Linked DNA regions of Homo sapiens: region 1 is linked to region 2. The links come from fine-mapping of genetic effects on gene expression. A gene starts in region 2. The other region holds a variant in brackets. All regions are shown on one strand. Distances are between the middles of the regions.

Region 1 (2,919 bases), 29 kb before region 2:
ATAAAGCCCCTTGGATATTATCAAAACTTTGACAAAATGATGTATTTTAAAAATATGCATACATAGAATCACTTTTCTTGTTGCACTTATGTAAATAATCAGATCAAGTTTAATGAGACTACTGATTTTGCACAAAAAGAAGAGTTAACCATGATTATTTTTGGAAAAATTTGGAATGACCATAAAAAAGATTGTATTTCAATAGAAAACTATAGCACCCATCATCAAATTCTGGTCTTTGTTATGTCCTTGTAAATTGGATTGAATCCTAACATTTTCTAGTTTCACTAGAAACTAAAACTGCTTTTTTCCGAAGCCCTGCCAGCTGAAATTGGATGACTTTAAATTCAGAAAAATTACTACAACAGACCATGTATGGAAAATTTTCATGCTGCTGCTGTGTGGGTCACTTGGAGAATTCACTGGAACACCTGATGATATTTCCAGAGACATTCAAACTGCAAGCCAGGAAAATCCATCAGGTTGCAATTGCCATCCTCATTCCATCATCTAAAAATGCTTCAAACTCAAATTTAGAAATCTTGACAGGCTGCTCTCTGGACTTAAAGACTAAGATCATAATTTGTTCCTAATGTTAACCTTTTTTTTTTCTTTTGTTTTTATAGAATGCTACCTTGAATTCCCTTCAAGCAATACTATCTGAAATAAACAATTTAACCTCAATAGTACTCCAAAATAGAAGTCCTTGATACCTTAGCAACTTAACAAGGAGGCTCTTATTTGTAAAAAAAAATATTGTTTCTATATTAATAAATTAGAAATTGTTGAGCCCAATTTAAAGGATCTTAAGGAACAAATATGTCTTTTATCAGACAGGTGTTGCCTCCTCCACTGATTTATTTTATTGGTGAAATATTGGCTCCTGGGAATCTGTGCTCCAGGGAATTTAAAAATCCTTGGCTATTATTCTCTCTGTAGTCATTTTGTTTACCATCCTACTATATCTTATCCTCTCAAGGATTTCAAAGCTTTCCAGAAGGCACTCACACATCAAATGATTGCCATCATCATTAATTGACTTGAAGAACTCAACAACCCTACCACTGAAGCCCATGATGCAGGTAATGATGCCATGTAATCTTATATCCCAATACAACTGTTGAGGATAAGATTACATGACTCTTTGTTCCAGTGACTATTTCACTAGTGGTAACTGAGAGGAATGCTACCACCTTCTTCTTAGCTTGCTGAGAGGGTGACCCAACGCGGTGGGATTGTTAAAGTAAATTAAAATGGAGACCAGACCTGAAGAATCCCAGAGGGGACAAAAGAAGTTATGATTTGTAAGTGACCTAAACCTTGCTTGATTTGCAAACATAACCAAACTTAACTTGAGCTATTTCTTGTGAATGCCTATATATATCTATATCTATAT[A/C]TATATTTTTAAAAGCAGAACTTAAGCTCAACCAATCAGAAGTTACTATTTATACAAACTTAGATAACGAGGGGCTTTCCAAGTTGAGAGACCAAAAAAAGCAATTGTATAACAGTAACCAATTAAATACTTTGCTTTACTTCTGTGTCTGTCTTATAAAAGTCTCCTCTTTGTGTTCCTCAGTGGAGCTCCCAAACTATTTCTGGTTCGGAGCTGCTCAGTTCATAAATTGTTCATGCTAAAAAAAACTCACCAAAACTCTTTAAAATTTTACTGTGCCTCAGTTTATCTTTTTAACAGTTCAAAAAAGATTAAAATAAATGATAATTATATTCTGTCCTGGAGAAGTAGGGAAAAAGTCATTCTTATGCATTGTTGGAAGGGAATAATTGATAGCCTTTTCTTGGAGAGCAGTGGTGTAATGAATTAAAAGTCAGAACAAGAAAAAACAAACAAACAAAAGCACATGTTTTGGAACCAGCATTTCTAAGTTTTGTTTTTTTTTTTCTCAGCAAGTATTTTGTTGAGCATCTTCCTAAAAAGTCATGCCTGCAGCCTTTTTTTGCCCTGTATGGATGCACTGCCTCCACCAGTTGGTACACAGCTGTCTCTTCCTCATGTTTCTGGGGCTTCTCTTTGTCTCCTCTACAACGTTTTCTTGATTCTTGGATCTTTGTTTACTCCTTTGTACTGGTGGAACCCATCCTTGAGTAACTACGGGAGAAAGGGGGAATGGAAAATACATTTTGACAACTTTTATATTTAAAAATGCCTGTTTTACCATGACAGTTTGACTGATATAAAAAATTCTGAGTTGGAAACAATTTGTCCTCAGGATTTTGAAGGCATTGCTATGTTACCTTCTTGCTCCTATTGTTGTTGAAAAGTCAGGAGCAATTATGATAACTATGGCAATATGTGATCTGTTGTCTTCACTTTATCAGCGTTTTCTTTTTGTTCTCGGTGTCCTGGAATGTCACAGGGATGAGCCTTGGAGTGTGTCTATTTCCATCCCTTTGCTCCGCACAGTGAGTGGCCTTTTCGATCTAGAAATTCACAGGAAAATTTCTTGAATTAGTTCATGCATGATTTTCCCCTCTCTGTTTTCTATGTTCTGTCTTTCTAGAACTCCTTTTATTCAAGCATTCACCTCCTGGATCAGTTGTCTTTTTCTTTTTTTTTCTCTCCCATTTCTCTGTTGTTCTCATTCTCTCTCTGCCTCCCTCTGTTTTGGAAACAGCCCTTGGAGAAAAAGTTTTCTGTTTTTATTTATGGTTCCTTAGGTGGTCTCTGTTTCTTCCCAGTTGCCTTCACTATTCTCTGTTTAGTTTCTTTCTTCTCTTTCACTTGAGAGCTTTTTCTCAGGCCTGGGTAACAAAATTCTAAAGATAATTGGATGCTGTGAGCCCACAGTGGGGCTGGTGCCCTGGGAGTTTCACAGGAGGGTGACTCCTTGGCCATTTGCTTGAGGAAGTGCCTTGTCAATATCATTCAGCCTTCTCTCTTGGGCTGCTCAGGATCCC
Region 2 (2,919 bases):
AGAGCTTTCTGTCTATTTTTCCTCTTTAGGGACTGCTTGAGTACAGCAAAAGGAGGGGCCAGCAGATTTCAGTTCAAGCATGTTTGAAGCCTGTTTTCCGACATTATTTGTAGAACAAAAAATAAACATAGTAAAATCTCCACTACAAATGATCTCTATAAAGTGTAATAACATGATTTAAGTTTATGTATTATTTTCTATATTTTATAAATTGCTGCATTGAACAGCTTTAATAAAAAAAATTAAAGTTAGCCTTGAAAATTTTTTTGGTTGTTGTTTGTTTTAATTTACAGACATGATAGTACCTTTTAGCTGTTCCTATACTTGAGTAGCAATCAATTTGGGTGTAAAATATTAGGGTCATAATGTTCTTTATACCTCATCCCACTCTCTCATGGTATTTGTTACTCAGAGAAGAAATCTGAGTCCTGATTATTTCAATTCCTTTGAAGAAACCAAGTTATTTTTTTGTTTATTTAGCAGTAGGAATCTTTTTATTTAAATTTAAAAATTTTCACCTGGAAACTTCCTATTCTAGGTCTCACTTTGTGAATTTTTTCCTTGCCCATGTTGAACTCTCAACCTCCAATTTTAGATTTCTTCTCAGACCTGGAAAGCATATTTTTTAAGATAAAATTTTTAATCTTGCTTGTGATCCACCATTCCATTTTATGCTTTAAGGACATCTCTGATTTGTAGATTGGAATTCTGTGATTTGTCCTCCCTTAAATTTCTGAGCTCTTCTAAATGTCTTTATTCATTTCACATTTGGGAATATTTCTGAAGTGAATCCTCTCCATTATTGATTTGATTTTCACACTGTCAAATCTGTCTTTTCTTGCTTCTAGTACAAAACCTGCTGGATTTTTTCTTCTTGCTTCAGCGTCTTGAACCAAGTTTCCTTTTTAAATCTAAGTCTGTTCTTGTTGGGTGGTGGCAGTGTCCTCTCAAATTGTTTCTGGGGTCCCTACACCCCCGTGAGCTCCCAGGCCATGTCTGTGGCAATGCTGAAGGACAAATGCAGGGTGTGGCCCTCCTGGTGATGAAGAGGAGGTGCACCCCAGGTCACCAGAAGCCAAGAGAACCCACGGGGCTGAGCAGGGCAGGATGAAGCAACATGTTCTCACAAAAACCCTGAAGATGAGATACGATTGTCGCAGCCTCTCCCTATGTGGGCCTGACTCTCTTCACTACACTAAACTGGATGTGAATGGAGAGGGGGCCTCTGGAGAGCAAAGGGCCCTCTGTTCCCCTTCCTAATATGAATGCCTTACTTTGATTTACATTCAAGTATCATTCTCCCTTAGATTTTGTAAGGTTGAAAGGTAATTGTCATTATTACCACAGAAAGGAAAACTGGAGTTCAAAGAAACTTAACTGAGAAGTGAGTCTTGGTCTCTGTATTATTGTGTTGATGTCAGGAGTCAGAGCAACTGGTGATGAAACAGAACCCAAACTCAGTGACTCCCAGGAATGGCCTCATATCCTGTTGTGCAACTTTCCGAAGCCTCTAGGTCATTGTGGTGCCTTGTAGCTGTCCCGGGAGCCCTCAGCAGCAGTTGGAGCTGGTGCACAGGAAGGATGAGGAAGACCAGGCTCTGGGGGCTGCTGTGGATGCTCTTTGTCTCAGGTAAGACAAGGAAGAGGACTGAGCAGGGGAGGCGTTTGGTCCAGGATCTCGGGGAGCCCTTTTCTGTTGAAGCTTCAGAGCACAGGGCCATCCAAGATAGAGCCAACCAGTAGTTATGGCAGACCGTGCTGCTCTACCCAGAATTGGGAGAACATGCAGTGTCTGCACACAAAAGTAAAAGAAGGAGAGAGTCAGGGAAAAAAGATGTCTGTGCATGTCGATGTTGTTAGAGACATGCAAAGCCTAGTATGGGAATAATGATAGAGTAGATCTCATCATGGCATGATCTACAATAAGTTTATTTGATGTTGAAATTTTTTTCTTATATTCCATCATGATGTGTTTGATGTTGACAATCTGTTAAACCCAAAAGACAGAATTGATTTAACAAATATTTCCCAGGGGTCTACTATGGGACAGCAAATATACTACTGCTGAGGACACAGACGTGACCAGAAGAGGCTGGTGCTCATTTTGGTGGAGGTGATCATCCCAGCTCTCCATGGCACGCTGGGGTTGGAGGGCACAGTTGCTGAGGCTCAGCAGAGCCGGCGCATGCCCCAGCTCTTTCTTGTGTCTCCTCTTACGATCCGCACAGCTCACATCTGCACCCAAACCAGAAGCATGCGGGCTTTATTCACTCCTCCTCCTAATCCTTATGAATAACAGGAGGAAAGTGTCAATATGAGTTAAAAGCGAGGCTTGCCTTGGGAAGGCATGAAAAATCAGGGAGAGGTATCCTCCTGGGCTCTCTACTTTGAGCAAAGTCATGGACAACTGCCTTGAAGAGCCTGTGCTCAGACATTGCTCTGGGTCTTCTTGGAGCTGGGGTGATAATCTAGATGGGCAGAAGGGAGTTAGCTCCTCATGGACAAGTGCATTTCCTTGTGTTTGATTCATGTTTTTCTGAAGGAGAACTGGGAGATGGCAGAGGGCTGAAGGTTATGTACCTGTGTGAGAGAAAACCAGTGGTATATATTTCATTGTGCCCTGTGGGGATAGGTTAGGGGTTAACCTCAATGCTCCTTGCAACTGGATACTTATTCACACTTGGGCCAGGACTTCTCTAATCCCTATCAGACTGTGTTGGACCATGTAGCTCAGTGCTTTAGGTGGAACCAGAGTCCTTGGGTTTGAATCCTGGCTCTAGTACTTAACTATGGTGAGACTTTGGGCAAATCACTTAATCTGTCTGTGCCTCAGTTTCCTTATCTATAAAATGGGGAGAATAATGGTGTCAACTTTTTACTTTATAAAGATTAAATAAGATAGTCTTTAAAAACCCTTAG

Alleles and levels. Positions count from the first base shown, and alleles are read on the strand shown. Sizes are in standard deviations (SD) of each study's normalised expression.
For the expression in B cells of the gene that starts at base 1,555 in region 2, allele A in region 1 goes with a higher level than allele C (large effect, 1.0 SD a copy in Schmiedel 2018).

What was found. PIP is the estimated chance that this variant, and not a neighbour inherited with it, causes the effect.
Region 1: its variant is fine-mapped to the expression of TREM1 in B cells (Schmiedel 2018, PIP 0.95).

Annotation. Positions count from the first base shown.
Region 1 is chr6:41,313,932-41,316,850 of GRCh38, reverse strand. No RefSeq gene overlaps it. Among named protein-coding and RNA genes, the nearest start is that of NCR2, 20 kb to the left of the region's middle. The variant A/C (reference allele first, on the strand shown) is at 1,397.
Region 2 is chr6:41,285,318-41,288,236 of GRCh38, reverse strand. TREM1 (triggering receptor expressed on myeloid cells 1) reads left to right here and starts at 1,555. Exons shown (of 4, transcript NM_018643.5): 1 at 1,555-1,630. The coding sequence starts at 1,582.